4 separate regions of the Homo sapiens genome follow, and regions 2, 3 and 4 are each linked to region 1. Evidence: fine-mapped expression QTL. A gene starts in region 1. Each other region holds a variant in brackets. All regions are shown on one strand. Distances are between the middles of the regions. Region 1 holds the start of DACT1 (dishevelled binding antagonist of beta catenin 1). Region 2 has its middle 85 kb from the start of DACT1. Region 3 has its middle 40 kb from the start of DACT1. Region 4 overlaps TOMM20L-DT (TOMM20L divergent transcript).

The links. PIP is the estimated chance that this variant, and not a neighbour inherited with it, causes the effect.
Region 2: its variant is fine-mapped to the expression of DACT1 in transverse colon (GTEx, PIP above 0.99).
Region 3: its variant is fine-mapped to the expression of DACT1 in whole blood (TOPMed, PIP 0.98).
Region 4: its variant is fine-mapped to the expression of DACT1 in whole blood (TOPMed, PIP above 0.99).

Annotation. Positions count from the first base shown.
Region 1 is chr14:58,633,321-58,641,358 of GRCh38, forward strand. DACT1 (dishevelled binding antagonist of beta catenin 1) reads left to right here and starts at 4,642. Exons shown (of 4, transcript NM_001079520.2): 1 at 4,642-5,227; 2 at 7,416-7,548. The coding sequence starts at 4,883. RefSeq lists a silencer at 4,433-5,142.
Region 2 is chr14:58,718,870-58,726,907 of GRCh38, forward strand. No RefSeq gene overlaps it. Among named protein-coding and RNA genes, the nearest start is that of DACT1, 85 kb to the left of the region's middle. The variant G/A (reference allele first, on the strand shown) is at 3,774.
Region 3 is chr14:58,594,319-58,602,356 of GRCh38, forward strand. No RefSeq gene overlaps it. Among named protein-coding and RNA genes, the nearest start is that of DACT1, 40 kb to the right of the region's middle. The variant G/C (reference allele first, on the strand shown) is at 4,399.
Region 4 is chr14:58,372,588-58,380,625 of GRCh38, forward strand. The region is part of intron 1 of TOMM20L-DT (TOMM20L divergent transcript); the gene reads right to left. ARID4A (AT-rich interaction domain 4A) reads left to right here. Exons shown (of 24, transcript NM_002892.4): 24 at 1-1,289. Among named protein-coding and RNA genes, the nearest start is that of TOMM20L-DT, 19 kb to the right of the region's middle. The variant C/T (reference allele first, on the strand shown) is at 4,169.

The DNA of each region.
Region 1 (8,038 bases):
CACGCCCGGGAAATTTTTGTATTTTTAAGTAGAGACGGGGTTTTGCCATGTTGGCCAGCCTGGTCTCGAACTTCCGGACTCAAGTGATCTGCCCATCTCAGCATCCCAAAGTGCTGGGATTACAGGCATGAGCCACCACGCCTGGCCTGAAATTAAAATTTTTAAATAATTGGAGAAATGGTCCCAATAAAGCAGAGTAAGAGCAAAATCCACCTAATACAATTGGTTAAAGAAGCCACTTGTGTAATCCTAGCATTTTGAGAAGCCAAGGCGGGTGCACTGCCTGAGCTCAGGAGTTCAAGACCAGCCTGGCCAACACGGCAAAACCCATCTCTACAAAAAATATAAAAATTAGCCTGTAGTCCTAGCAACTTGAGAGGCTGAGGAAGGAGGATCACTTGAACCCAGGAAGTCATGGCTGCAGTGATCTGAGATCGTGCCACTGCACTCCAGCCTGCGTGATAGAGTAAAACCGTGTCTCAAAAAAAAAAAAAGCCACTTGTCTCTGAAACACTTTTAAATTTTGCTTTGAAATCAAATCCTTTCATTGTATTAGTACCACAGTATGTGGCTCTAGGTATTTGCACACATGGAACTCTGCACCTTCCATCTGTAAAGATGACCGGTAGAAATGGCAGAGCTAAGGGACAAAAGTCTGAGGCTGGTGGAGACTTAATCACCTTAATCAGTGATTACGACGGTGGGGAATGCAACTCACTTCCAGACATTCTAGAATCTTTGGAATCCACAGTGCTCTGCAGGAGGAAGCAGGAGCCTCTTGAAAAACTTACCACCAAACTTCATGGAATCACCCTGGCCTTCTTCAACAAAAACCTCTTTAACAGCACTAAAACACAGCTAAAAGGTAACCTTTTCATGTAGGATGGTTTATTTGGTAGTGTTTGGTTGTGCACCAGAGAGGATGGAAGGAGTTGTTTCATAGCCTTTCAAACAAGACCAGCATTGTCAAACATTTGCTGTTTCTTCTGCTATTCCCCTATTCCCTTCTGCCCTCAAAAGATGTTTAAAATTTTCAGGGCCATGATGTTGCCCCATTTTGCTACCACGCTTCTTTTTTCTTGATCTTTTGTTTCAATGTCTGCTTTCTTTCCCCTGTGTGCTCACTGAAGCCTGATTGTGGGGTCAAGCTATAATTAGTTTATATATGAAGTTTAATTCACTGTGGCTTTTTTGGCATTAGACTCAAATGGGCTTTGATGTCTGGCTGGGGCTTTGATCCCAGACCCTCGAATGGTGGTCATCTCTCCAGCTCAAAGGATTGCCCTTTACTCTTTTCCTCCTATTCGGAGACAGCTTTTCCCAATTACATCATTTGTGTTTGTTTGGCCATAAAAGCTGCAAGGCATCATTTTGTTGCTTTGCTTGATGGCAAAATGTGCAACTGATGCCCCTTACTTTGCTTGGCTGCAATAGAATGTTCACCGCTGGACAAGGCATTTGTAGAATGATGCTCAGACTTTGGTGGGGGTGCTGTTAGGAGCTGTTCTGCCTAAGGACAAAGCATCAGACTGTGTGATATGAGGGACATGTTCTGGCTCTGCCCAGGAAAGATCTTCAAGCATAAGTTAACACCACTGTAATATATTCAGCCAAGACTCTTTTTCATGCTGGCAACTTTATCTTACTCTCCAGATCATCCAGGCAGCAGGTCCACCCCATCGTTAGTGGTACACTTTCTGAGTGTCAATTAACAGTTTTTCTGAGCAGACAGGCGTGTCCAGGGAAAGCAAAAGAACCAACTAGGGCTGAACAACATTAGAAAGGAGATAATGAAATAGCACTAGTGGAGGAAGAAGTACCAGCACCTGCTTTAAAAAGAAAGGGAAAGAAAAATCAAAACAGTAGGGGGAAGTGAGATTCCGTTGGCAACAGAAGGGAGCAGTAGGCGATCACTTTCAACTGCTTCCGGAATACCTGCAACAAAAACAAAGAATCAAAGAGGAAAGAAAATCCAGGCAACTAGACTGGAGGGGAGAAAATTTGGCTGCTAGCTTAAAAAGAGAATAGGGGCAACCCAGCCTGTCTCACTTAATCTGATGACATTGGGAGTTTTCCTGGAAAAACAATTACAGCATTGAGCTCCTTGCTTCTAACTTCATTTGACAGCCTGAGTTTGTTTTAATTGGCATGTGAATGAACAGCATTATTTATTAATGTGTAATGGATACTTTGGAAAGCATAACCTTTTTTCCTATTCGTGACCATTTTATTGGCGGAACCATCTGAATATATTAGTTTTAATATTTAAACTTGCTGAGAACACTTTTTCATGGAGATATACAAGCTGTTACGGCAAATGGCTTGCTTTGGACTAATGAGCCAGCTCAAAGTGGCATTTGGTGAGGAGGGGGGTTGGGAGGGTGGGGAGGTTTGGAGACATAGCGAGCTTGTCTGCCTGACTTAAGATTTATTAGTAGTGTGTAAAAATGTGTTTCAGCTTTTTTTCCCCCTCAACTATACAAATATAGTTGTCGATGTGTGACATAACACAGGCCACAATAATAGACTCCACCCAGTCAGAGGAATCTAATTCAGAGCTGGAAAGCAAGAAGCTTGTTTAGAAATGAGCAGAATGAAACAATGACAGAGGACATGGGTGAGTGGCATTTGGCAAGCAGGATAAGTCACTATCCTTTCGTGCCTTACTAAAATTAGGGAGGAAAATTAGTTCCTATATTATAAAGTAGTGTTTGGCAACAGCAGGCATAAAGAATAGATAACCTGAAGAGAATCGATTTTGTATGCTTATGAACACCTGACCATAATTCCATTTTTAGAGCTAATATACAACCTTGTTAATTATGAATCAAGTTTGTAGTTCTTTCATGTCTGTGGGAGGCAGCAATGGGGAGGAAAGTGAAAGGTGGCAAGGGAGTTCTTTTGTTTTTGTTTTTTGGTAAATGTCAACTTAATTCTATTTGTAGTAGAGATTAAATGGGTACTATTAAGTTTAAAAGTATGCTAATGAAAAAACAATTTACAACCAATCTACATTCTCGAGTCTCTCTCTAGCAATTGTCAGGTGAATGCTTGCAAGGTAATGTGCTGAATACAGCGATACTAAGAGGGTATTAAAACAGTCCCTGCCTTCAGGAAGCTTTCATAATGTAGATGGAGAGAAGAGATACACATAAACACCTACGTAGATAGATATGCGTGTGCACACCCAGATAAATAACCATACAGGTAGCATGGGATCAGAATCAGATATTTATATAGTTAACTGGAGCTCAAAGGTTGGAAGGGTGGTTAGACCACACAGAGAGGGGAGGAAAGAAGAGGAATTCCTAGCACGGGTAAGCAGATGGGCAAAAGTGCAAGTGTCTGAAATAATGATATAGGATGCACTCTTTCACACAACACTTTGCCTGAACTTCAGCAATTGTGACTTGCTGGATTGAATTTCCGAGGTTCTTGGATGTACTGCTTTTAAAGATATATGTGGTACTTTTCCACAGATAAGCCAGCTAGTGGAATTTTCAGACCCCTATCCCACCGGAAATTTCAGTGGGATAGGGGTCTGGAGTAGTGTGTTCCAAGCAGAGATGACCAATACATGATACTTCAAGAGGGAAGACTTATAAATCCCTCTGGAGAAAAGCTACAACTCATATCACCTTTACTATCTATGTGCTAGCCACGTTGTAAGTGCACAGCCCCCACAATATATAGCATATGCTGCATACTATTATAATTCTTCAACAGCAGGTTCCCATAGCAGCTGCTCCCTTTTACAGTGGGGGGAACGTACACAGAGAAGGGAGTAAGTTGCCCGCACAGCTATTTAGGGGTGAAACTGGGATACAAATCCAGACAGTCTGATTTCTGAGTCAGAGCTCTTATTGTAAACGCAGACTAAGTAATAATAAAAGCTCAAACAAAAACCAAAGCGCGCACGCGCGCGCACTCAAATCGTAGGCTTGTAAAAGAATTGATGCAACCTCTCGCTATACAACGACATCCTCCTGCCTAATTTTAAATGCCGTCCATCGTAAGACCGACGTTAAAAAATTAAAACGACAACAAAACTTAAGTTTTAGAACACTGCATTGTGCTCTGTATTGCTTGCCTTTACAAAGTGGAGTTAAGGAACCAACCCCACAGTGTCTGTGAATACACTTGCAATACCTTGCTTGGGAAGTGAAAGAAACCTAACTCGGTGTGAGTGGAAATGAGGAGTGGCCGTGTGGGGAAAGGGTTAAGACTGTGCTGCAACTTGGTCGAGTTTCAGAAAGTTCTCCGGAGAGCCCAACTGCCGCGTCCCGTCGCGGCCCCTGCCTGCGCGGCCGACTGTAACAGGATGCTGGGGCTCCAGGCGCTCGCCCCGAGCTTTGGGCGACGAGAAAGAGCCAATGAGGAGCGAGGGCAAAATCGGGTGCAGTAAACCCGAAAAGGGGGCGAGGAGGCCCGCGAAGAGAGCGGGGGAGGAGGCGGGGAGGGGCGAGGAGGGGCGGGGAGGGCCGAGCGAGGAGGAGGCGGCTCTGGGGGCCGGGCGGCGCGCCTGACAGAGGAGGGGAAGCCTGGGGGCGCAAGCGTCGCAGCCGAGGGGCCGGCGCGGGGAGGCGGGCGCCAGGCGGGGGTTTGCAGGGCCGCCGCGCGTGACGTAGCGCCGGGCAGGGCGTTATCAGCTGCCGGGCCGCGGCGAGGGACGCGCGGCGACAGCGGACGGCGCTGCCCGGGCCGGGACAGCAGCAGCCGGCGGTCGCGCGCAGGACTCGAGGGCTTCTAGCCACCGTCCCCGCCAGCGCCGCGCCCCGCCACAGGGCGGCATGAGCCCACCCGCGGCCGCAGCCCTAGCGCCCTGCTCCTCCGCCTGGGCGGCCCGGCTGCGGTGACGGCTCTCGCTGCCCGACTGGGGGCCATGAAGCCGAGTCCGGCCGGGACGGCGAAGGAGCTGGAGCCTCCGGCGCCGGCCCGAGGCGAGCAGCGCACGGCGGAGCCCGAGGGGCGCTGGCGGGAGAAGGGCGAGGCAGACACCGAGCGGCAGCGCACCCGGGAGCGGCAGGAGGCCACGCTGGCCGGGCTGGCGGAGCTGGAGTACCTGCGCCAGCGCCAAGAGCTGCTGGTCAGGGGCGCCCTGCGCGGCGCCGGGGGTGCGGGAGCCGCTGCGCCCCGCGCTGGGGAGCTACTGGGGGAGGCGGCGCAGCGCAGTCGCCTGGAGGAGAAGTTCTTGGAGGAGAACATCTTGCTGCTAAGAAAGCAATTGGTAGGTCGTGCCCGAAGGTGGAGCACGGCTGTTCCTGCCCAGGGGCTGGAGGTCGGGCAGGTGGCCTGGGGCGGGCGCGAGGTTGACTCTGGCTGGGGAGATGCTCGCTGTTATGGGACGCCCCCGACCGCCCCATACCTCCCTGATCCCCTTCCTGAGTGCCCGCGGCGTGTGGGCTGCCGACGCCCACGCGTTTCTGGCGTGTGCCCGCTTTGTGTCTGGCGACCTCGCGCGGATTGCGGGAAGGGGGTGGCCGCTCTTCCCTCCTCCTCTGCCTTCGGGATTCTTGGAGTCGCCTAGTTCTAACGTTCGGTCTCCTTAGTTAGATGAGTATATGCCCTCTCCCCAGCGGTTTGCAAACTCCCACTTAAAATACCATTTTATTTGGAGGTTTTCTTGACTTTATCTCCTCCCGCCGAGAGGGGCCAAAAGCCAAGGAGGGGGTTTGTGGCGTGCTTAACTGTCCAGGGCCGAGTTTTACGATTACACTGGAGCGCCTGTAGGGAGCCGTGCCTCTCCGAGAGCTCTCCCCAGCATGCCAGCTTTCACCCAGGCTGGTGCTTAATTTCAAATAGAAGCCCTTTGTATAAGGCAGCTCAAACTAGATGGAAATGATGGAAATTTGGCTGGAGACTGTGTCCCCTCCTCTCATATTTTATACGTTCTGCCAGCTGTGATTGGTGGTGGAGGTGGGAGAAAAGAGAACCTGCTCTCGGTAAGCATTTATCTTACTGGGTTTCTGTCAGTGTCTCAGTCTTTCTATGCAGTCTTCATTAATGGGGAAGAAAAAGAACTTTGTAGCTTAATGTATTGATGAACAGCTTTTGACCCCGCCTCAGAATAATGGCGACAGCTTTGTTTTCAGTGACCTTAAAATGTAGTTTTGGAAACAGCAAACGTCCTCACCTGACCAAGTGATACTATCTAAACTAGACACATGCCAGGTAGTGGCCCTCCCACAATAAAGTGGTGATGCTGTGCAGTTGTCATGTGTTTTCTTCTATTATCTCTTTTCAGATCATTTCTTTTCTCTGTGTGTGTGTGTGTGTTTTTAAGCACCAAAGTGCTTTTACTTGATAGGTTCATTTTTCCTGAAGAAATTAATTGTAGCAAACAAACATACAATTTATGTCTCCAAGCTTTTTAAGTCAAAAGACAAGAGGCGTAGATATTCATATGCATGTGTTTTGTAAGGATGTACACTGTGGTTTGTGTAATATCTCTGTTTTGGCATTTTACTGTGCTGCTTCGGTCACAGACCAGATTCCTATGTAACATTCATTTGAGCCAGTTCTCACTGGTTATGGCTGGTGACTTTTACATTTTATTGTTTTGTGCAATTGCACCTTTTTGTCTGCATGAATCTCAAGATTGTAAGTGGCGCATTCCTATTGTCCGCTTGAGGGGAGCAAAGCAGTATGTCAAGAGAATTCCAGTCCAGTCAGTATTTATGGTACTATTTTCATTTGTAGACTTGGCATTCATGATTTGAACCAGATGCTTTTTGAGTTCTCCCGTTTTTCCAGCAATAGGAAGCACTAGGTGGCAGTGTGAGTTAGCACAATCCATCTGTCACCTTTGGAAACCCAGAGGCGTTCAAATCTCGATGGGCCTTCCCATGAGGGTTTTGGATTCTGCCAGCTCACATTATACTTGGCACTGGCTATTAGTATTAGTTTCTCACTTTCAAAGGCTCTAAGACTGATTAAACCCCACAAAGCAACTAATAGAAAACAAAACTCTGCAGGCCAAGACATTTGGCCAGAAAATCTCACCTAAGATTATAGTGTATTATAGGAAATCTCTTACTCTCATTTCAAATTAAAGAGTCTACTGTGAAGTATTGTTTTTTAAAAGACTGGTTATACACCAGATGATTTAAAGTCTCAGTCCATTTTTCTTGTCCCTATCTATGAAAAGTCAGTTTGTATATATTAGTTGAAACTAAAAACAAGTCTTGTTTTTATGAAGAAACTTTATATCACCACAAAATGTGAGAAAGTGGAATTAAACATAGGACATATTCTTGAATTCTCGAAGTTTTTCGTTACTTCAGGTCATCCAGTAAAATTTTGGTTTTCTAAGTTTAGTGAACTCTTCAGATGGGTAATTTGAATCCTTAGAGTAGACTTTCTGGTTCTTTTGTCACCCCTGTATGTTCATGTTTCCTTTGTTTCTTCCTAATCAGAACTGTTTGAGGCGAAGAGATGCTGGTTTGTTGAATCAGTTGCAAGAGCTTGACAAGCAGATAAGTGACCTGAGACTGGATGTAGAAAAGACATCTGAAGAGCACCTGGAGACAGACAGTCGGCCTAGCTCAGGTGAGTGATTGAGCACAAGGACAGAATTCTGCACTCTTGAGTTGTATCTCAGCCCCTTGTGGTTAACATTCCCAGACCTGCAAATGGCAATGGAGTTTGTTTCCAGTGCAGAGAGGATAAACAAAAAAGAAGTCTGCCATTCAGTTTTATCGGAATAAGAGGGAAATAAACTCAGACAACAAAATTTTTAGTAATGAGATCAATGTGATTGGAGTCCCCCAAGTTTAAAAATAAAAGCTATTCAAATTTCTGCAAGAGGTGCCCTCCTTTGAAACTTGAGTAAGTCAGAACTGGGCTAGAAAATTAGTCACACTTCAACTTCCTGAGACCACTTCAAAAGTTTTTTTTTTTTTTCTTTTAAACCATTTGGGCTCCTTAGATTTTTCTCTTATTATTGTTCTGAAACAATCATGATAAAGATGAGGCTTGACAGATCTAAGTTTCTTTCCTTGGACATGTTCAAAGGCGGGGTCAAGGAATAAGGTCAATT
Region 2 (8,038 bases), 86 kb after region 1:
GCAGCGTTGGGGAAGTGTAATGAATGTTTACTAACTTTGCCATTCAGCACCTGCACAACCTTCTTGGGGACACAGTTTTACTTCGATGGTTCCCCTTTCCTATTCTCAGTCCATGTGCTTCCTGTGAGGCTGATTTCATCCCCGGGCCTGAAGGAGTGGAGCATGTAACTAGGTTAGGTTGAGCCAATCTGTGCAGTCCATTCTCTTGGCCACAGCCATGTTTCAGCCATGGACATGTGACTGAAAGTGGGCCAATGAGAGCCAAAAGAAATTCAATTTTGGCATTGGTGTTTGAGGTATTGGGAAGCAGATTTTCTTTTTGTTGGACTGAGGTTTCTGAAGATATAAGCCTGAATTTTCTAGAAATACTTTTGTGAAGTCATGGATTGGAGCTTATCTAGAGGAAGAACTGCTAGAAGGAGGAGCCCAGAGACATTGTGACTGATCCAAGCTCCTTCAATAGGCAAGATTGAACACGGACTTTTCAGTTTTTTTTTTTTTTTTTTAATGGAGTGTCACTCTGTTGCCCAGGCTGGAGTGCAGTGGCATGATCTCAGCTCACTGCAACCTCTGCTGCCCAGGTTCAAGCGATTCTCCTGCCTCAGCTTCCCAAGTAGCTGGGATTACAGGTGCCTGCCACCGTGCCTGGCTAAGTTTTGTATTTTTAGTAGAGACAGGATTTCACCATCTTGGCCAGGCTCGTCTTGAACTCCTGACCTCGTGATCCACCCGCCTTGGCCTCCCAAAGTGCTGGGATTACAGGTGTGAGCCACCATGCCCAGCCTAGACTTTTCAGTTTTATGAGCCCATAAAATACCTTTTTTTTCCCCCTGGTTTGCTTATATCAGGTGGGATTGGGTTGTTTTTATTACTTGAAAACCAAAGAATTCCAGCTTTAACTGTTTTTCTTCCCTCTGCTCCAGGCACCTTTTATATCCTTATATTTTGTTCTTGCCCCACTGTTGACTAATACCTGGTGTTTGGGTAAGGTGGAGAATGTAGGGCTTTCTTGTCTAAGGGAGGCATGGACATCAACTACCAGGGTCATCCTTCAATACTAATGATTGAGCATATTATGTATCTGGCATACAATTTGTATGCCTTGGGGAGAAAGAGGAAAAATGGAGAAGGCAAAAATGGAAGGAAATAGGGCAAGGAGAGAGGTGGTTTCCATACTAAATGGAGAGGGATGCGATTACCGCCGGGTCTTTACTTCTATTCAGATACAAAGAAAAGGAAGGACTGGGCCGGGCGCGGTGGCTCACGCCTGTAATCCCAGTACTTTGGGAGGCCGAGGCGGGTGGATCACGAGGTCAGGAGATCGAGACCAACCTGGCTAACACAGTGAAACCCCGTCTCTACTAAAAACATAGAAAATTAGCCAGGCATGGTGGCAGGCGCCTGTAGTCCCAGCTACTCGGGAGGCTGAGGCAGGAGAATGGCGTGAACCCAGGAGGTGGAGCTTGCAGTGAGCCAAGATAGCACCACTGCACTCCAGCCTGGACGAAAGAGCGAGACTCCATCTCAAAAAAAAAAAAAAAAAAAAAAAAAAAAAAAAAAAAAGGAAGGACTGACTTGGGAAGGAGGGAGATTGGAGGTTCTTACCCAAACCCCTCAGTGAGGACCAGGGAAGATGTTAGCTTCCTGTTTATATTTGTAAGGAATATGGAGGCAGGAGTCGGAGGCAGGAGTCGGACAAACCTAGACTTGACCTGTCTTAGTCATGATTTCCATAGATATTTGTCATGGGCATAGACATTTTCACAGCTTCCACAAGGAGAGTCCTTGATTAGAATTTGAGAGTGAAACCAAGGCAATATAGTTTCCTAAGGTGGCAACCTGGATACTGCGGATTGATATAATAGGTCAGTTTGCAAGTTAGTGATCATGCTAAACAAAGCCCTAATGGCCCTCTTCTAAAGATGGATTTACTCCAGACACCTCCAGGAGCTCTGTTTGATGAAGTCTTCATACTAAGCTCAGAATTTTCTTATTTGGAAAATATCAGTTTGAATGTATCCTCAACAGATCTTATGGTGGATGCTGGAATAGCACATGCAGAGGAAGTATGTTATTTCAAAATTCCCTTGGATTAAAGAAGAGGCCAAAGACTATTTGATTTCTGTGCTAAAATATCAATGAATGCTCCTTATTCTGGAAGGGAGAGGTACAATAGTCAATAATAAAGACCCCATAATAGCTAGTCAAGCACATACATGGAATCTAGAAACACTTTTAATCCACTATTTCAAATGCCTAATCCCAGTGCTACATTCTGTCTCCTTCCAAGTCTTCATGGTTGTGGAAACTGGAAAATTCAATTTGTCTCTGACCTCTGCCCATGCCTCTGTGGTTTTAGTGCTAAATATTATACTTGGGAAACATCATGTGGTCAATCTCAAGGAAAATGAAGACTTTTGGACTCTCATCCTTTTTTTTTCTTTGCCTTACAGATCTTCAGCGCTCTGCTCTTCTACTTTATTCTTCCTTTTCTCCTACCCTCTTCCTGTCGAATTTTGTGTCTAGCCTTAGGGGAGGGTTGTCTGTCATCCTATGTTTTGCTAGGGATGGGAGTTGGAGTAAGGTAGGGGCTTTGGGTCCTAAATGCGGAGAAGGGATAGAAAACATTTTCTTTGAAGGTAATCTTAGAGTAGAAGATTTAAGTAATTGGATTGCAAATACTAGTTTTCTGCTAGCACTTCCCATTGTTATTATATTAAAAGAGTTTCCATCTCCTTAGTTTACTTTACAGAATACCTCATCCTTGGTAGGTATCAGGCTCCAAGAACAAGTGTAGGAAAGACCTATTGCATGAGAAAAGGAACTATACAGAGAAGAGGATTTCTATACCCCTGACACCCAGGGCAGGAGACACTCAGATATTCTTTTAGGCTTTTACTTGGTCGCATGGCAATTGCCCTGTGCCATGGCTTTTTTTGATTGGAATTCCTAAACTGAGAAATCAGACACTGAGTGGATTATATATTCTTGGCTGCCACTAGGAAAAGGAGTCATGGTCTCAGCAGGGATAGCGACATTGTTTTAATTTCTACCATCTCAAAACAGATGGAACCCTGGCTTAACTCTGGTTTTGGCTCTGCTAAACAGTTAGTATATGGAAATTGAATATTTAAATACAGTATATTTATCCCATTGTGTTTTAATTACCCATTTACTTGCTTATCTTTTCCCATGAGACTGTTGGTCCCTGAGTCTGCTTTTTCACCTTTATCTCCATTGCGTAGCACATAGCCTGGCACATCATTGGTGCTCATATCTGTTGAGTATGAGGGTGAAATAGCCCCATGGCACAGAAAATCCAAAATGTTTATTTGACGTGTTTAGAAGGTGGGTAGGAACATTTTCTTGCTTTTTGCATGTGTGGGACATTTTTACTGACAAACTTTGTTTTTAAGGAAGCAATGATAAAGACAAATATAAAGAGGTTGAATAAGCTGAAAAAATAGTCAGTGTTGACAATGTTTCTCAAAATGTGGCCTGAAGACCACTAGCTTCCTCCCGACAGCATGCTTATGGTCCACATTGCAATTTTTTCTTTTTCACTCTGTGTCCTCTGTCCCCCAATCTTCTACAATTTATTAAGTTTAATTTATTCTTGCTTCAAATCAAGGAAACCGTGTGGGGTTTTTAGTCTCCATTTTTAGAGGGAGAAATTGAGGCCAAATAAATGCAGTGGCTTGCCCTATCATGCCCCAGGAATCCCTGGACTCAGATGTGACTGTTTTTCAACCCCTGTTTTAAACATCCTGTTT[G/A]CTATTGGGCTCGGTGTCCCTTCCTGACCCATTTTGAAACAGATGGAAGAAAGGTCAGCAAGGAGGAAGTGGAGATATATGGGTTTGTTTTCTGGAAAACAAATGTAACTCAAGGATTTTTTTGTGTGTATTTTACTAATATGATCTTCAAAAATACCCACCAGGATCAACAAATATTTATATTGCGAACACGAAATGGCTCATCCTCAGAGATACCAGCTGTTCGTAAATTGTACCCAGAAAATAAAAGTATAAGATGTATATTTCTTTACAGAAACATATAATTTGTTTCTCTTTTCATCCTTTTAGTCTCTTCTAGATAGGCTATAGAATTATTTTGCTTGGCAAATTATGGAATAATTCTTGGCAAGCTTACAAAAAGAGAAGTTAAAGTAGAAAAGGATTAATTTCTAGACATAAGAATTTTGCTCTAAATCACAGTGGAGTTGAGCATGATATTTTAAGAATTAGCCATGATGAAAATTTGTTGTTGTTCCATCCGCTAAATGGTTGCTAAAAATGTGATAATATCTGGGGAAGGGTTCCCTTTATCTCTCCTCTCTCCCCTCCCTCCCCTTTCTCTCCTATCTTCTCCTCTTCTCTTTTTAAAATTTATTTCCAAGAATGCTCCATATATTAAGAAAAAACACCTATCAGGGTATTTGGTTGGAGTAACATCTTGTCATTTTTATTTTATTTATTTATTTTTTTTCAAGATGGAGTCTCACTCTCTTGCCCAGGCTGGAGTGCAGTGGTGCGATCTTGGCTCACTGCAATCTCTGCCTCCCAGGTTCAAGCGATTCTCTTGCCCCAGCCTCCTGAGTAGCTGGGATTACAGGCATGCACAACCACGCCTGGCTAATTTTTGTTCTTTTAGTAGAGATGGAGTTTCACCATGTTGGCCAGGCTGATCTTGAACTCCTGATCTCAGGTGATCCGCCTGCCTCAGCCTCCCAAAGTGCTGGGATTACAGATGTGAACCACCATGCCTGGCCGAACATCTTGTCCTCGATCCCACTTGGAGAACCCATTTGTGTGTGGCCCTGGGCAGTTAGGCTGCTTGATGCCTTTCAGCTTGCACTAAGCCACTCATGCTTTACATCCCGAGTTCCATATTTTATTTTATTTTTTTCCTTCAAACTTTTATTTTAGGTTCAGGGGGGTACATGTGCACTTTTGTTACATGGGTAAATTGCATGTCACTAGGGTTTGGTGTACAAATTATTTTGTCACCCAGGTAGTAAGCATACTACCTGATAGGTAGTTTTTTATCCTCATCCTCCTCCCACGCTTCACCCTCAAACAGGCCCCAGTGTCTTTTGTTGCCTTCTTTGTGTCCACGTGTACTCAGTGTTGAGCTCCCACTTATAAGTGAGAACATGTAATATTTGGTTTTCTGTTTCTGTGTTAGTTCACTTAGGATAATGGCCTTCAGCTGCACCCATGTTGTTGCAAAGGACATGCTTTCATTCTTTTTTATGCCTCCATAGCCATCCATGGTGTATATGTACCACAATTTCTTTATCAAGTCCACCTTTGGTGAGCATCTAGGTTGATTCCGTGTCTTTGCTATTGTAAATAGTGCTGTCACAAACATACGTGTGCATTTGTCTTTATGAGAGAATGATTTATATTTCTTTGGGTATATATCCAGTAATGAGATTGTTGGGTCAAATGGTAGTTCTGTTTTAAGTTCGTTGAGAAATCTCCAAACTGCTTTCCACAGTGACTAAACTAATTTACATTCCCACCAGCAGTGTCTAAGTGTTCCTGTTTTCTGACCTCCAGAGTTCCATATTTTATACTTTCAGTGTCTTGGTAGGAGTGAGGGGTGTGGAGTGTCCTTTGGCTGGAGATGGGATGGTGATGAAGGAGATGACAAATATTTCACCACTAATAATGTCAAAATGGAGGTGAAATTTTAAGTTTTCAATCAACATTTTTTGAAGTTGCTTGCTTAGATTTACTTTTTTTTAGAGAACTTTTAAAATTGATGCATAATATTTTACATACTTATGGGGCACCTGTGAGTGTTTGTTACATGCATAGAATGTATAATGATTGAGCCAGGGTATTTGGGGTATCCATCAACTTGAGTATTTACCATTTTTATGTGTTGGTATCATTTCAAGTTCTCTCTTTTAGTTTCTTTGAAATATACAAAATATTCTTAGTATAGTTACTCATTAACCAACCTCTCTTCATTCCTTGGCTTCCACTCACCCTCTCTTTCATTTCCAGTCTCTGGTTATGTATCATCCTATTCTTGATCTAGCAGAGATCAACTGTTTTAGCTACCACATATAAGTGAGAACATGTAATATTTGTCTTTCTGTACCTGGCTTATTTCACTTAACGTAATGGAACCTCCAGTTCCATCCATGTTGCTGTTAATAACAGGATTTCATCCTTTTTATGGCCAAATACTATTCCATTGTGTACATATATCACATTTTCTTTATCCATTGTCTGTTGATTCAATGAGCATTTAAAAAAAAAATTTAGTAACTCAAGAAAGTAGGACCTAAACTCAGGGACCTCACAGTTTCATTCTTTTCTGCTGGTTTTATGATTTCCTGGACCAGAGTTGCAGTAAAATGAATATACAGTTGACTTTCCTCCATGGGTATCTGGAGGAAAACAAATGAATCATAAAAGAGTTTTTCTATTATTGCATGAAAAGTACTAAAATACTACAAAGTGCTGCTCTGTTTTATAGAGGGAACCATGAAGTAGTAGTCTTTATGATGAGGTTTCTTGGAATTTTTTTAATGCAAGAGGATCTGAGGATGCAGATTGGATGTAAGTTATTAAACATCAAGACCATGGCAATAAAGATGCCACTGTTCTTTTGATAATGCACAGACCTTTGTACTTTTGTGTGTGGGCTTTCCTTTCAGAAGATAAATATATTTTTAAAACTTTGACAAATGAAGAGTGTTTTGACTGTTTGTGAGTTAAGGCAAAAAAGAATGATGGCATGAAATCAGTAATGTGCCCAGTGATTGATTCCACACTCATGTTGAGAATAAACCCATCTTAAGATGTTCCTTTTAAAAAAGTTTTTCCATATAATATATTCAAAGTCTTATAGGTCAGTATTTTTTATTTTACTTCTAATAAATTTTCTCTTGTAAGATATTTTTTGTTAGCTGCTGTTCCTTGGAATAATGTTTAAAAAGGGATTTGCTACATATGTATGAGATTTAAATATTTTGAAGTTTTCCCATCTTTTTTTCTTCTTGAAAGTCAAAACACCTCTGAAGATCAAAGAAATCTCTTTTCCCGATTATCCAGGAGTAGAATTTGGGATTTTATCTCAGGAGAAGTACACTTAGAAAATGTAAAAAGAAAAACAACAAAAGTCCCAGCTGGAGTGAGAAAAATCAATCCCTCACAGACGTTTTTGTCTGTGGCCAATTGGTGACTTTCCAACAGGGTCTGTCTTTTGAAATCTGGTTTCCTCTCTCCCAAATTAAACCCTGGTTGTATCTTAAAAAGAAAAGTCTCCACCATTCTGTCTACCATGACTCTCTATAAACTTTCCTTCATGAAGGAAAGGGAGAGCATTTTGAGAGTCTTGCAATAGTCAACATGGTGATTTCACAGTTGAGTTTACATTCTCTGCATTCTCTCCCGTAATATTTCTTTTACCTAAAGCAAATCCTATATTGAAACCTCAATAGCATCAGAAATCTTTCTTAAAAACAAGAAGTTTCGGTGACTTTTGATTATAACACAATATAACATTCACATAGTGTTCACAAGTGGCTACTTAAATTTATTTTTCATTTTTTTATGATTAAAACATTGTTTTCAGAGACAGGGTCCCACCATGTTGCCCAGGCTGGTCTTGAACTCCTGAGCTCAAGTAATCCTTCTGCCTTAGCCTTCCAAAGTGCTGGGATTACAGGCGTGAGCCACCATGCCTGGCACAAGTGGCTTTTAAGGTTCATAATATTAACCACACAGGTGATCTGTTTGGTTCATCACACTTTGATCTAGTGAAATAGTTGAGGATATTCAGTTATGAGGAGAAGACAAACCAATACAGATGAAGAAAAAAGTAAGCAATCTATTGGTATGTATCATGTGCATTTTTGGTACCTGCCAATTTAGAAGGCACTATGGCAAATAAAGCAGATGACATAGCCCCTGTGTACAGAGAACTTGGAGTCTGGAACAAGATGCAGAGGCAAAATGGTATTCCATTGTTCAGAGGCAGAGGTCTCGGCTGCAGTCACAAAAACTAACAGAAAGAGAGA
Region 3 (8,038 bases), 39 kb before region 1:
GGCCGGGCATGGTGGCTTATGCCTGTAATCCACTTTGGGAGGCCAAGACAGGCAGATCACCTGAGGTCAGGAGTTCGAGGCCCACCTGGCCAATGTGGTGACACCCCATCTCTACTAAAAATACAAAAATTATCCAGGTGTGGTGGTGAGTGACTGTAATCCCAGCTACTTGGGACGTGGAGGCACGAGAATCGCTTGAACTCAGGAGGTGGAGGTTGCAGTGAACTGAGATCATGCCACTGCACTCCAACCTGGGCAATAGAGAGAAACTCAGTCTCAAAAAATAAAAAGTTATTGTGTAATATTTACTATATACTAAAAGACATGTGGAACATATATGTAAGTGAGGAAGGGCGGTGACAAAATAGACAGACACCTGCAATCCCATGACCCAAACTAAGAGCTAGAAAATTACCAGTAGCAAGGCGGGGCGCAGTGGCTCATGCCACTTTGGGAGTTTGCCCACAGTGCCTCCCAGCACTTTGGGAGGCGGAGGTGGGCAGATCACCTGAGGTAGGGAGTTCAACACCAGCCTGACCAACATGGAGAAACCCCATATCTACTAAAAATACAAAATTAGCCGAGCGTGGTGGCGCATGCCTGTAATCCCAGCTACTCGGGAGGCTGAGGCAGGGGAATTGCTTCAACCTGGGAGGCGGAGGTTGAGCCAAGATCGAGCCATTGCACTCCAGCCCGGACAACAAAAACGAAACTCCATCTCAAAAAAAAAAAAAAAAAAAAAACAATTACCAGTAGTAGGACATTTAACCTTTTTCTTTCTTTTTTCAAAATTTCTAGTGTGGAGAATTAGTTCAGTCAAAGTATATCTATAGACTTGGATTGATTGAAATAGACAGTAAATAGACTATAAACAAGTATCCCTCATAGATGGCTGTCTAGTCTTTAATTAAACACTTCAAGTGACAGGATATTCACTACCTCATAATGCAGGTGATGCCATTATTAGACCGCCCCTATCTTTAGAAGGGTCTTCCCTATATCGAACTGAAATCTGCACCCTGAAACTTCCATCCATTATTCTTAGCTTTACGTTTGAGAGACACTGTGGCTCAGATGCAGGCTCTGCAGCGGAGTAGATCTGAGTTGAAGTCTCAGCTCATTTACTTACTGTGATCTTGGACAAATTACTTAACTAACTTATTTTTACCTCAGTTTCATCTTCTGTAAAATGGGAAGAATAATAATACATAGGGCAAGCGAGACCAGACCACACGTGCTGGTCTGGGTTTGAGGATTGGTGGGAATGAAAACTTGGATTTGGCTTGAGTTACTTTGGCTTTCTTTGGGGGTGTGGTGGCCTGAGCCTGTAGTTCCAGCTATTTAGGAGGCTGAGACAGAAGAATCACTGGAGGTCAGGAGTTCCAGACCAGCTTGGGCAATATAGTGAGAACACATCTCTAAAAAGAAAAAAAAGAAAGAAAATTACTTTAGCTCTTGTGTATTGTCTGAATCAGGAACATGGTCAGTTGTAATTTACAGAAACTGAAAAATACAATGACTTATACAAGATAGAGGTTTAGGGGTTTTTTGTTTGTTTGTTTTGGTTTAGTTTTTAGAGAAGCAGTCTCATTTTTGTTGTCCAGGCTGCTCTTGAACTCCTGGGCTCCAGCGACCCTCCTGCTTCAACCTCTGGAGTAGCTGGGACTACAGGTGCATGCACACCACTGTGAAGCTCTAGGATTTTTTTTTCCCTAGGGAAAGGGAAGTAGGCTGTCCAGAGATGGTATTTTTCTGCTCCACCAGTTTTAGGCCCTGGTTTCTGTGGCCCAGGATGGCTACTGGGCCACCACTTCCGCGTTCTTGACAGGAAACTGAAGAAGGAGAAAGGACAGAAAGAGTGTGTGCTAGATCCTGTCTTCCGTTCAAGTGGCTTTCTTACAAATCTTGTAACCCAAGGTCCTCAGTTTTTTGGGTACGTACTGTGAAAAGGTACCTGCTTGTAACTGTTGCATCTTGAGTTCTTGTTGTTTCAAGAAGTTCCAGGAAGAAGCTCAGCCCCAAAAAAACAAAAACTGGTTGGATCTAGAGATGCCTGAGTTGGAGATGAACTTTAGTGAAGTCTCCTCATTACCGTACCAAAAACCCTGCCCAGGGAGGAGCTTATCACCATTTTCTATATGAATGATGTGTGTAGAAGCATGATCAGTTACTGTGTTGTCTTTACTCTACCTCTACATACAAAAACTCAGCTAACCAGTCCAATAAAAGCCCTATTTTCACCAGTGTTTGGGAAGGCGCTGCTTTGTGGGACTATCCCCGGTATCCTCCTTACTTGTTCTAAGTAATAAAATTCCCTTGTTTAATTCTCCTTGGTTAGGTCATTGGACTGTCACCTGTGAAGCTATTGAATCCATCTGTTATGTGAATAACAATCCCATGTAACAATGTACACTCACGTGTCACTGGACAGAGCTGAGCCACATGGCCATTCTTGGCTATAAGGCAGGCTGGGAAATACAGTCTTTTAGCTAGAACATTACCACCCCAGATAAGGTTAGGATTCTGATGCCAAGAAAGAAGAAAGGAGTGGATATTGAGCAGGCAAACTGCAGTCCCCACCACATGATTGAATCAGCAAATAAGCAGTACAAAGTTTATAGACATCTTTGCTATGTTGTATCTGTCTATCTATCTACCTATCTATCTTCTATATGGATATACAACATAGCAAAGATGTCTCTCCCTCTTTATATATATATATATATATACACACATATATGTATCTACATACGTACATCTTTGCTATGTATTTATCTCTTTCTCTATACATATACACACACATATGGAGAGAGATCTATATATCTATATATCTATATCTATGTCTATATCGAGAGAGAGAGAGAGATTTTAAGGAATTGGCTCATGTTATTGGCTAACAAGTCCAAAATCTGCAGCACAGGCTGGCAGGCTGGAGACCCAGGGACGAACTGATGTTTGCAGCTCAAATCTGAAGTTAGTCAGGAGACAGAATCCTTCTCCCTCGGGGGACCTCAGTCTTTTCTCTTAAAGCATTCAACAGATTGGATGAGGCCCACATTATGGAGGGTAATCTGCTTAACTCAGTCTGCAGATTTACATGCTAATCATATTTAAAAATGGCTTCACAGGCCGGGTGTGGTGGCTCACACCTGTAATCCCAGCACTTTGGGAGGCCAAGGCGGGCGGATCATGAGGTCAGGAGATCGAGACCATCTAACATGGTGAAACCCCAACTCTACTAAAAATACAAAATTAGCCGGGCAAGGTGGTGGGTGCCTGTACTCCCAGCTACTCGGGAGGCTGAGGCAGGAGAATGGCGTGAACCTGGGAGGCGGAGCTTGCAGTGAGCTGAGATCGTGCCACTGCACTCAAGCCTGGGCGACAAAGCGAGATTCTGTCTCAAAAAAATAAATAAAGAAAGAATAAAAATAAAATAAAATAAAAAATAAAAATGGCTTCACAACAACATCTAGACTGGTGTTTGACTGGGTGCCACAGCCTAGCCAAGCTGACGTAAAATTAACCATCACACATGGTTGCAGATGCAAGCAGATCTGGCTGCCTGGTGGCTGTTTGTTTCTAATGGATTCAGTGGAGATGAGTTCAGTGGGTTCACCAGCTTATACAGAGAAGGGACTCACCAGGTCAGAAAAGCCCAGAGCCCTGGGTTGTTGCCTTTTGCATCTTCTAAGGCTGGAGGTACAGAGGGAGAGTGTGGGGATGCATGGCACTTAGGGGCCACATTGTTTCCTGGAAAGTAGTTCTTGTGTCAGGGTCACAAAACCTAGTTAGTTCATGTTTTATTTCTTATGGCCCCTAAGGCCTGCACATGGGCACACTGTAGAGTTGTGTTGTGGACTGAGTCAGCTCTGTCCCGTAGAACTGCCTCAGCACAGTGCTTGGAACAGGCTGGGTCCCCAACAAATGCTAGTCGAAAAGCTGTAGTTCCTTAGAAATATTTGACTATAGTTCCACGTGCTTTCATAAGTATTTCTTCTTCTAAACATACCTGATTTCAGGCTTAGGTCTTTGTAACCTTGACTACACATTGTAATTTTGGAGGTGGGAGGCGAGGGTGGGAGGAGAAATGGGAATGGGTGAGAGGACTTTCTCATTTTAGCAGATGTTAGTGGGCACTGTAGCTAAATACATCTCTAACACATGGGGAATGTTATGTTTAAGTTGAATAACACAAGGAGTTTGTTTATATGCAGTTAGATAGCTCTCTCTCTGTAGAGGAAAGAAATCTTTTTTTCACCAGGAACACTTATTTTGTGGGTGTGCAGCTTCCTCCCACTTCTCCTTGGTTTGATGTGGTGACAACTCATTTCACAGACAGCACAACTGCAGACAGACCAGATCAGAGGAAAGGAGAGGAAGGGGTAGACTGAATATGTG[G/C]TATTTGGTGATATTGTGTAGCTAAATGGCAACTCTACTCTACTTTTCCTGAAATCCTTCAGGTATAAAGTTCAGGGAGAGTTGATACCTGATTAATACGTATAAAGAGGTTAATATAATGTACTTGCAATTACAAATGGTGAGTTATTCTCCTACTTGCTTTCTTATGCCAAGTAAGTAAGTCTTACCTTAATGACAGGAATAGTGAAATGGAGCAGGGTAGGCGGAATACATTTCAGAAGTTACATTACTTAACAATAACAAAATATATATGTACATATTCAATTTGAAACTTCCCTTTGGTTTTCATAGCCCATCTGCAGAAGGCCACCCAATTAGTTAAGAAGAAAAGGGGTTGGAGATCATGGCTGGTTATTTTATGTGCACTGAAATGGAGGAAATGGCCACAGTTGCTTAGCCAGGGGTGTACAAACCCTGCCCCCCAGCACCGCCATTAGACTAAAAAAGGCATCTTATAGCATCAAACAACTTAAAGAGATGTAATAAGGAAACTGCTTCCTTTGCACATCTGTGAAGAACATCTGGCTCTACGGTGAGCCCTGGCAACTTTAACAGTTAGTTGGTGGCCCACAGATTAAAAGGGAGGCAAACCCTCCAGTCATCAGGCTCGTCTGCAGAGTTTCTTGGTGGCATAACCACGAAGCCTAAGGGTAAAAAGCATCTGGTGCCTTTTTCTGCTGCGCACTTCGCCCGTGCTGAGCTTATTCCCTGACCACAGACTTAAAAGACAGGGGCTTACGGAGACTCAGGCGCTGGCCTCAGAAAGCAGTACATCTGAACTCTGCCCTAGAGGCTCTTCATCCTAGCACTGTGGGGCTGTTTGGGGGTCAATCCCTCAATTATTACTTCATCTCTTTTGTGGTATAGGATTATTGAAGACACGTGCCTTGTTGTATTTTCCAAAGATGGCCACAACAATATCTCTCATCCCACATGCTCATCTGCAATATGACCTCTCCTCTCCCATCGAGATGCAGTCTTATTTCTCTCCCCTTGAATCTAAGCTGGCCTCAGTGACTCACCTGCAGCCAATAAAATGTTGTGGAGGTGATGTGGAGTGACTTCCAAGGTTAGGCCAGAAAAAGCCATGCAGCTTTCTCCTGGCTCTCTTGGAAGGTTTGCTTTTCAGACATTCCCTCCTGAGATGCTCTGTTATAGGACCAGCTGCCATGCTGTGGGAAACCTACATCACGTGGAGGGCCAAATGCAGGTGCTCCTGTCAACAGTCTCAGCAGAATCTGGCCTTTCAGTCATTTTAGCCTTGACACCAGATATATAAGGGAAGAAGCCTCCAGATAGTTCCAGCCCCAACTGAGTTTTTAGCAGGGGTCCAGACATTGTGGAACGGAGACAGTTCATCCCTGCTGTAACATCCAAATTCCTGACCCACAGAATCTTTGAGCACAATAAGATGGCTGTTTTATGTAAGTTTGAGGTGGTTTGTTACACAGCAATAGATAATTGGAGCATGCACATAAGAGATACTTTTGGAGGAATCTGAAAGCAGGCTATTAATCAGAATGCCCCACTTCCCCTCCCCTATACCAGGACACTTTTCTGCGTGTCCAGCACTGTATTGCACAATGTCTAACTTGTAAGAGAGGTATAGTTACCCCCAGCCTCTCCTTTGTAAGCAATGGAAAAAGATGCCCATTCCCCTGAGACAATGCAGCCCTACCCCACAACACATAGCCTGGCAGGCCAAGTGCAGGTTCCCATCCCATTGCCTCCCCAGCCTGGCTGGATATCTTGTGCAGTGCAGGAACTATACAATTGTATACAGCAACCTTGAAGAAGTGTAAAGTAAGCTCTCTGTCCTCAAGGAATTTACATTCTTATTGATGATATAAAATATGTGTAGTTTAAGATGGAAAAGTTTTAAATGCTAAATCATGAAATAATACTGATTCTACAAAGAATTTTGCAAAAATAACAAAAAATATGGAGCTATAGAAAAAGCACTGGACTTTTAAGTAGGAGATCTGGGTAGAAGAGCCAAGCTCAAGCCATGTCCTGCATGATGCTAGCATGGCCTTACTTGGTGCCTGGGAATAGGCACTTGAGTTCTTTGGGCTTCAGTTTCCTTTACCTGGGGAATGAAGTTGGTCTAATTGGTGCTTCTCAAACGTTTCTGTTGTGATATCCTTATGGCATAACAGAATGGTGTCTGAGGGTTTAATCTGGATTGCCTGGCAAGAACTGGACTTAAAAAAACTGCACAAACCCTTGATTTGTTCAGATGACTCACTTCTCATTGCCTTTAGTTTTCAAGAAAAAAAAATGACCTTAGTGGAAAAGTCTTCCTCAACCACTGTATTTCAAAAAGCACAGCTCCTTCACCATTACCATTCTCTATCTGTGGTACGTTAAAGATGGCCACAGATTCTTTAATACTCTTCCTGTTGAGAGGGAGGTCTATGTCCACTTAAATCTAGGCAGGTTCAGTGGTTTGAGCAATGGAATATAGCAGCAGTGGTGCTGGACTAGTTTTCAGGTTGAGGTCTTAAGAGATTGGCAGCTCCCACTTCCTGACTCTTGGAACAGTTTCTCCAGGAGCCCTGAATTTGATGTCTTGAGACCACCATGCTGAAGTGACCAAGTGTAGGTGCTCCAGTCAACAGTTCCGGCTGAGCCCTACCTTCTGATGATTCCCACCAAGGCATCAGACATGTGAGCAAACCCACTTTGGACTCTCAAGATAGGTCCATCTGCCAGTTGATGCCACTGAGTAGAAGGACCACCCAACTGAAGCCTGCTGGAATATCTGGCCCATAAAATTGTGAGATATCATAGAACAGTTCTTATTTCGAATAACTAGGTCTTGAGGTTGTTTGTTACACAGCACTAGATAACTGGAACGTGAACGCTCAACCTGCTTTGCTTTCTTTACCAGGAGTGCTGTCTTGGATCTAGCTCACACTGGATCACAGGAAGTTAAATTTTCAAGAATTGTATGAGCCAGTTATTAAATAAAGCCACCATCAGGAATTGAATGATTTAACTTCCAATTAAATTAATTATATTAAAAATGAAGTTAATAAATTCTCAAAACTCATCACTTCCTAGTCTTTTACTACATATTTCTCTTATGCTCTTGAGATTATTAATGTCTATGATATCTGTGTGGTGGAAACACTCTACAGTCAGGCCCTACTGCACTCTCCCAACTCCCTATCCAATGACATTGCATTGGTAGCTTGAAATTAATCGTGGTAGAACTATTTACACCACAGAAATTTTCCAATGCCTCTCAGAAAACTGGTTGTTAGACATTTATACCAGCACACCACTACCATTGTTTACTGCATTTATAACCATCTGATACAATTGTTACTTATTAATTATTTGCTTATTCCACACCCCCGACCCCTGCCAATGGAATACAAGCTTCTGGAGAGGAGGAGCTCTGTCTTTTTATTCATCACTATCTCCCCAGAACTTAGAAGAGTGCCAGGCACAGAGGTGTTCAGTAAATACTAATTGAATGAAGGCATCCTCCTCCTGTTGTTTGCTACATCCCACTTCTTGGAGACTGCTGGCTTCCTTCTCAGCAGCTGTGTGACTCTACCCCGCTGGCCATAGACACCTGATTCAAGCGGGACCAGTGAGCATCCCTGAA
Region 4 (8,038 bases), 260 kb before region 1:
AGTCTTCCACTTTTTATAGGATTTTTGAGCACAAAATTATGCAAATATTTTAATGTTTATTAATGTTTACAGTGGAATTGTGAATAAGTTTTCAGTGGACTATCTTATCCCTTGACAAAAATATTTTGTCTTTTTTCTATGTAATTTCAGAGTTTTTATTTTGTTACAAAAAGACAAAAATGAAATATATAACAACAATGAAGTTATTTAACAAGATTTCTAAAGCTGAAATTTTTGTGTAAAATAAGGTATTATCTTGCAACTTGTTAAATATATTTATTCAGACATTGGATGTTGTATTTTTATGTATTTTTTAAAATATTAATAAAATTTAAAAAAAGAAAATTCTAGGTTAATTCACTCTTTGGATGACAATAGCTCTCAGCTGTCCTTTTTACAGGAGGTTGCATCCTGCAGCCTTGCCTGTGTTAAAGGGAGTCTGTCTCAGTCCATCAAACAGTATAGAACTATAAATGGGCATCTGGATCATTAAAGTATGTCCTTGTTTAGAAACTTTGGCAGTCCTAGTATTTAAACTGTTTTGAGGATCAAATTTTTGGTTGCCCTTAAGATACTTTGTCACAGTTTTTATGTTTGCTATACTGCCGAATGAATTTATATCTCCCAAAGTTGAGATGCAACAACTAAGTAAAGCAACTATGTATGCTTTGTCTGTGAATTGTTCCACAGACTGATAGATTTTGTAAATAATTCTTCCAAAATCATGTATTTAAAGCAGTTTTGCATATACATTATGTAAAAAGGTGATTTTATAAAAGCAGTTTTTAAATTCATGTTTGTACATTGAAAGGGGTTTTTTTTTTAAACCTCCTTTTCTGTGTTTAATATGCTGTAGAATAATAACCTAGATGCTCTAGACTGTATATCAGGATCTGATTTACAAGAAAAAGTCAGAGCTAAACACTAGTGATGGCATAGCATTACTGAAATCATTGTTTCTTAATTTCATTTTACTACATTGTGAACTTGTGATTCAGATTCCATTTTCTCAGAGAATTAAAAACAAAAAAAGTACTCTTGTAAAATGCACTTTTCTGTCTTTTCTTTGCAAAGCAGAAGTATCTCAATGTAAAATAAAAATGGAGCTCAGTGGGCAGTATTAATAAAGGCCATGTTTTAAACATAGGCTTTATACTTTTAGTTTTCATTTAAGTGATTGCTTTTTTCCTAAGTGCTTGTAACTTACAGTTGGAAAATCAGATTTCACAAAACCAAGCATTTTAGTATATTCAGCCTTTACAATAAAATATTTCTACTAATTATAAAAATGAAAAAAAAAGTGTCATTTAAATCCATTTGGACCTAGGAGGCAACCTTAGATTTATACATTAAATATTTTAATGATTTCCTTCTGTAGCAATTCAATAAATGTGAGATAAATAAGTTATCAGCTTGAGTACTGTCCCTTCTAATTGATACAAATTTGGTCATGAAGTATTGGGATGTTGCTACAAAGAGCAAAACTGTGTATTCATTGAATAGATACACACTGTTAAAATCCTTTCATTTGGAGGCTGGAAAGGATTATGAAATTAAGTGAATATTGACTAAGTATGACATTTCAAATATTGAGCATATTTTGAGTTTAGGTAAACTTTGAATAGATACCTCTTAAATGTAACTAAGAAAGTAAAAATATAGGCTGGGTGCGGTGGCTCATACCTGTAATCCCAGCATCTTGGGAGGCAGAGGCAGGCGGATCACAAGGTTAAGAGATTGAGACCATCCTGACCAATATGGTGAAACCCCATCTCTGCTAAAAATACAAAAATTAGCTGGGCGTGGTGGCACGTGCTTATAGTCCCAGCTACTCAGGAGGCTGAGGCAGGAGAATCACTTGAACCCGGGAGACAGAGGTTGCAGTGAGCCCAGATCACACCACTGCACTTCAACCTGATGACAGAGCAAGACTCTGTCTAAAAAAAAAAAAAAAAAAAAAAAAAGTAAAAATATAAAGACACTCTAATATAATGCAAGTTGCCATCTGTAAAATCAAGTTATTTAAAAGATTATGGTGCTTTCTGTTTTAGTATTGCATTGTGTGCTTTTATGTATTTCAATTTTTGAAACAGGGTCTTGCTCTGTCACCTAGGCTGGAGTGTAGTGGTGTGAACACAGCTCACTTCAGCCTTGACCTCGTGGGCTCAAGCCATCCTCCCACCTCAGCCTCTTGAGTAGCTGGGACTACAGGCATGTGCCACCACACCTGGCTAATTTTTAAATTTTTTGTAGAGACAGGGTCTTGCTGTGTTGCCCAGGCTGGTCTTGAACTCCTGGGCTCAAGCGATCCTTCTGCCTCGGCCTCCCAAAGTGCAAGGATTATAGGTGTGAGTCATTGTGCCCAGCTGGACATTGTGTGCTTTTATTGTTTGTTATTTTGTGTTAAATTTCTAGTTTTCCTCTCTTTCACTAAGAAAGATGGTTGCACTTAGCATATTAAAAGACTACTACATACTATGCCTTCTATGAAATTGCTTTAAGTTATGAAAATCTATGTGGATTGCCCAGTTAATTTGCTTACATACCTTTCTTATAAGCCCTGTAATTTTTTTTTTTTTTTTTTTTTTTTTTTTTTTTTTTTTTTTTTTGACGGAGTCTTGCTCTGTTGCCCAGGCTGGAATGTAGTGGCGCGATCTCCACTCATTGCAAGCTCCGCCTCCCGGGTTCATGCCATTTTCCTGCTTCAGCCTCCTGAGTAGCTGGGACTACAGGCACCCACCACCACGCCCGGCTAATTTTTTGTATTTTTAGTAGAGACGGGGTTTCACCGTGTTAGCCAGGATGTTCTCAATCTCCTGACCTTGTGATCCGCCCGCCTCAGCCTCCCAAAGTGCTGGGATTACAGGCGTGAGCCACCGCGCCCAGCCTTAAGCCCTGTAATTTAACATAGCTATCAAGAGTGTGAAAGCATTCAAAGCTATATTCAACCATATATAAAACCAATTAACAGAATTCATTCATTGATGATTTATTTAGTATCTTCTATGTGCCAGGCATAAGCTTAAGGCCCAGGAGCCACAACGGTGAACAAGACAGAATAAAGTCCTTCTCTTCATGGAATGTATAATCACGGTGTAATAATATGGTAGATGTAAACAGTTAACTCATGTAATTATTATTTTTTTATTACAGTCTCTGCTTATCCAAACTCATGTAATTCTTAAGTGCAGGTATAATAAGCATATGAAGTTATGGTGTGCAATGAGATAATGATAGAGAGCCCACTAGTTTGAAGGCAGGGGTGGTATGGGAAGGCTTTGCAGAGAAAGCAACAAGAAAACTGAACTCCAGTGAAGATTATGAATTGGCTGGGGAAGTAGAAGGAGAGATATGGAGAGTATAGTGTTCCAGGGACATGGGGGAGGGGAGATTGATAGAAATGGTCCAGGTAATGAGCCAGGGCAAGAGTAGACCTGATGCAGGATAGGAGTCAAGTAGGACTGAGAGTGGTAGGGGAACAGGAGCAAAAAGGACAGGTGGTCAAGGTTTGAGCAGTTCCCTACCACTCTCAACCCTGCTTGTCCAGAGGTGTCTCAAGAGCCACTTTTCCATGAAGCTTTTGCTGACTTCTCACTACAACCAGAATAGTGCCCTCTTTTATGCTCTGATAGCTTTTCAGTCTGTATTATTTTACTTGACAATTTACCTGATGTTTACTTGTGCATGTGTGTTTCTATCCTACTAGATGATTGAGTTCTTAAAGCCAGACATTTGTTTGTTTGTTTTGTTTTTTAGTAGAGACAGGGTTTCACCACATTGGCCAGGCTGGTTTCAAACTCTTGACCTCAAGTGATCCACCCGCCTTGGCCACCCAAGTGCTGGGATTACAGGTGTGAGCCACGGCGCCTGGCCTAAAGCCAGACATTTAAAAGAGGTCTTTAGGGTTATTATTATTATTATTTTGAGACAGGGTCTTACGTTTGACTACTGTCACCCAGGCTTGAGTGCAGGGGTGCAATCATGGCTCATTGCAGCCTCTATTTCCCTGGCTCAGGTGATTCTCCCACCTCAGCCTTCCAAGTAGCTGGAACTACAGGTGTTCATCACTTTGCCTGGTTAATTTTTTTATATTTTTAGTAGAGACAGGGTTTCACCATGTTCCCCAGGCTAGTCTTCAAATTCCTGGGCTCAAGCGATCCACCTGCCT[C/T]GGCCTTCTAGAGTGCTGGGATTACAGGCGTGAGCCATTGTGCCAGCCAAGGTTCTTTTCACAAAGTAATTAAAAAAAAATCATTTGAAAAGTGTTAAAGCAGATTTGTTTAACAGTCTGATCTGAAAATATTCCTAAATTGATGAGCTATTTTTCCTTCTCTCCTTGTTTGTTCTTCCTTTTCCCATTACTTTCATGTGGTTACACACAGATTTTTATCACATTAAAGGAAGAGTACAATAAGTGATGACATCCATCATTAGTGAAGGTTGGTTGACTCTTAGAATGGAGTTTGCTCTAATGAGGAATTTGTAACAAATACATGCTTAATGTTTTCACAGAGTAGAAATTTTTTTAGTTCTTTAAATTTTATTACAAAATCAAATGTTTTCCATGTTGACAAGCACAAAAAAAACTTCTTTTATTCATATAGATCCATTATGTATCTCTTTAAACAGAATAAGGGCAGTGCTTATAATTTTGGTATTTGTACTTCACATAATTATGAAGCTATCTTCACTTTGTAATCTGTGTCATGCAGAATTCATGTTGAAAAGTTCTATTGTGAAAAGCTTAAGGAACTTCCACATAGATACAATAAATGATTACTCTGTACAAGTAATTGGATTTCTTCTCGAGGCTAAATTACATTAAACAAGACAATCTGATTCAAGAATCCCATCATTTTAGGGTTGCCAGAGTGAGCAAATAAAAATACAGGATACCCAGTTAAATGTGAATTTCAGACAACAGATAATTTCCTCATATAAGGATGTCCCATGTAAAATGGTTATTTATTAAAACACACTTAGGCTGTGCACGGTGGCTCATGCCTGTAATCCCAGCACTTTGGGAGGCTGAGGTGGGTGGATCACCTGAGGTCAGCAGTTCAAGACCAGCCTGGCCAACGTGGTGAAACCTCATCTCTACAGAAAATACGAAAATTAGTGGGATGTGGTGGTGCATGCCTGTATTCCCAGTTACTTAAGAGGCTGAGGCAGGAGAATTGCTTGAACCTGGGATGCGGAGGTTGCAGTGAGCTAAGATTGTGCCACTGCACTCCAGCCTGGACAATACAGCAAGACTCCATCTCAAAAAAAACAAAAGGCCCAGCGTGGTAGCTCACGCCGCTAATCCCAGCACTTTGGGAGGCCAAGGTGGGCAGACCACAAGGTCAGGAGATTTGAGACCATCCTGGCCAACATGGTGAAACCCCGTCTCTACTAAAAATACAAAAATTAGTTGGGCATGGCGGCACATGCCTGTAATCCCAGCTACTTGGGAGGCTGAGGCAGGAGAATCACTTGAACTAGGAGGTTGCAGTGAGCGGAGATCGTGCCACTGCACTCCAGCCTGGCAACAGAGCAAGACTCCGTTTCAAAAACAAACACACACAAAAACCTCAGATTTAACTGCGTATCCTGTATTTTATCTGTAAACCCTATACTAGTTGCCCTTCTGCTATAACACAAAACATATATTTATTATCCTTAAAGAACTTTTTTGGTCCCAGTTGGAGGGTAACAAATTGCTCAGGTTTTCTCTTGGTTTCCAGGGATGAATGTGCATGGGCAGCCCATCAGTGATTTTTTTTTTCCAATAAGTTTTTGGGGGACAGGTGGTTTTTGGTTATATGAATAAGTTCTTTAGTGGTGATTTCTGAGATGTTGGTGTACCCATCACCTGAGCAGTGTACACCGTACCCATTGTGTAGTCTTTTTTCCTTCATCCCCCTCCCACCCGTTCCCCCAAGTCCCCAAAGTCCAATGTATCATATTATGCCTTTGCATCCTCATAGTTTAGTTCCCACTTACGAGTGAGAACATAGAATGTTTGGTTTTCCATTCTTGAGTTACTTCACTTAGAATAAGTCTCCAGGCCTGGTGTGGTGGTGCACGCCTGTAATCCCAGCACTTGGGGAGGGTGAGGCAGGTGGATCACCTAAGGTCAGGAGTTTGAGACCAGCCTGGCCAACATGGTGAAACCCTGTCTCTACTAAAATAAAAATTAGCTGGGTGTGGTGATGCACACCTGTAATCCTAGCTACCTGGGAGGCCCAGGGGAGAGAATCACTTGAACCCAGGAGGCGGAGGTTCCAGTGAGCCGAGATCACACCACCACACTCAAGCCTGGGCAATAGAGCAAGACTGTGTCTCCAAGAAGGAAAATAATAATGATAATAATAATAATAATAATAATAATAGTCTCCAATTCCATCTAGGTTGCTGCAAATGCCATTATTTCATTCATTTTTATGGCTGAGTAGTATTCCATGGTGTATATATATATACCACAGTTTATCCACTAATTGACTGACAGACATTTGGGCTGGTTCCATATTTTTGCAATTGTGCATTGTGCAAGTATGCACATAAACATGCGTGTGCAAGTATCTTTCATATAATGACTTCTTTTCCTCTGAGTAGATACCCAGTACTGGGATTGCTGGATCAAATGATAGTTCTACTTTTAGTTCTTTAAGGAATCTCCACACTGTTTTTCATAGTGGTTGTACTAGTTTACATTCCCATCAGCCGTTTAAGTATTCCCTGTTCACCACATCCTTGCCAACATCTTTTTTTTTTTTATTTTTTGATTATGACCATTCTTGCAGGAGTGAGGTGGTATCACATTGTGGTTTTGATTTGCATTTCCCTGAAAATCAGTGATGTTGAGTTTTTTTTTCATGTTTGTGGGATACTTGTATATCTTCTTTTGAGAACTGTCTATTCATGTCCTTAGCCCACTTTTTAATGGACTTGTTTTTTTCTAGCTGATTTTGTCTGACTTCCTTGTAGATTCCGGATATTAGTCCTTTGTTGAATGCATAGATTGAGAAGGTTTTCTCCCACTCTGTGGATTGTCTGTTTACTCTGCTGATTGTTTCTTTTCCTGTGCCGAAGCTTTTGAGTTTAATTATTAGTAAGTACCATCTGTTTGTTTTTGTTGCATTTGCTTTTGAGCTCTTGGTCTTGAAGTCTTTGCGTAAGGCACTGTCTAGAAGGGTTTTTCCGATGTTATCTTCCAGAATTTTTATGGTCTCAGGTCTTAGGTTTAAGTCTTTGATCCACCTTGAGTTGATTTTTGCATAAGGTGAACAATGAGGATCCAGTTTCATTCTTCTACATGCGGCTTGCGAATTATCCTAGCACCATTTGTTGAATGGGATGTCCTATCCCCACTTCATGTTTTTGTTTGCTTTGTCGAAGATTAGTTGGCTGTGTTTGGCCTGATTTCTAGGCTCTCTATTCTGTTCCATTGGTCTGTGTGCCTATTTTTAAACCAGTACCATGCTGTTTTGTTGATCATGGCCTTATAGTACATTTTGAAGTCAGGCAATGTGATGCCTCCAGATTTGTTCTTTTTGCTTAGTCTTGCTTTGACTATGCCAGCTCTTTTTTGGTTCCACATGAATTTTAGGATTGTTTCTTCTAGTTCTGTAAAGAATGATGGTATTTTTATGGGAATTGCATTGAATATGTAGATTGCTTTGGCAGGATGGTCAATTTCACAATATTGATTCTACCCATCTAAGAGCATGGGATGTGTTTCCATTTGTGTTGTCTATGATTTCTTTCAGCAGTGTTTTGTAGTTTTCCTTATAGAGGTCTTTCACCTCCTTGGTTAGGTTTATTCCTAAGTATTTTATTTTATTTTATTTGCAGCTATTGTAAAATGGGTTGAGTTCTTGATTTGATTCTCAGCTTGGTCGCTGTTTGTGTATAGCAGAGCTACTGATGTGTGTACATTAATTTTATATCCTGAAATTTTGCTGAATTCATTTATTCTAGGAGCTTCTGGAGAGTTTTTAGGGTTTCTAGTATACGATCATTTTATCAGCAAACAGCGACAGTCTGACTTCCTCTTTAA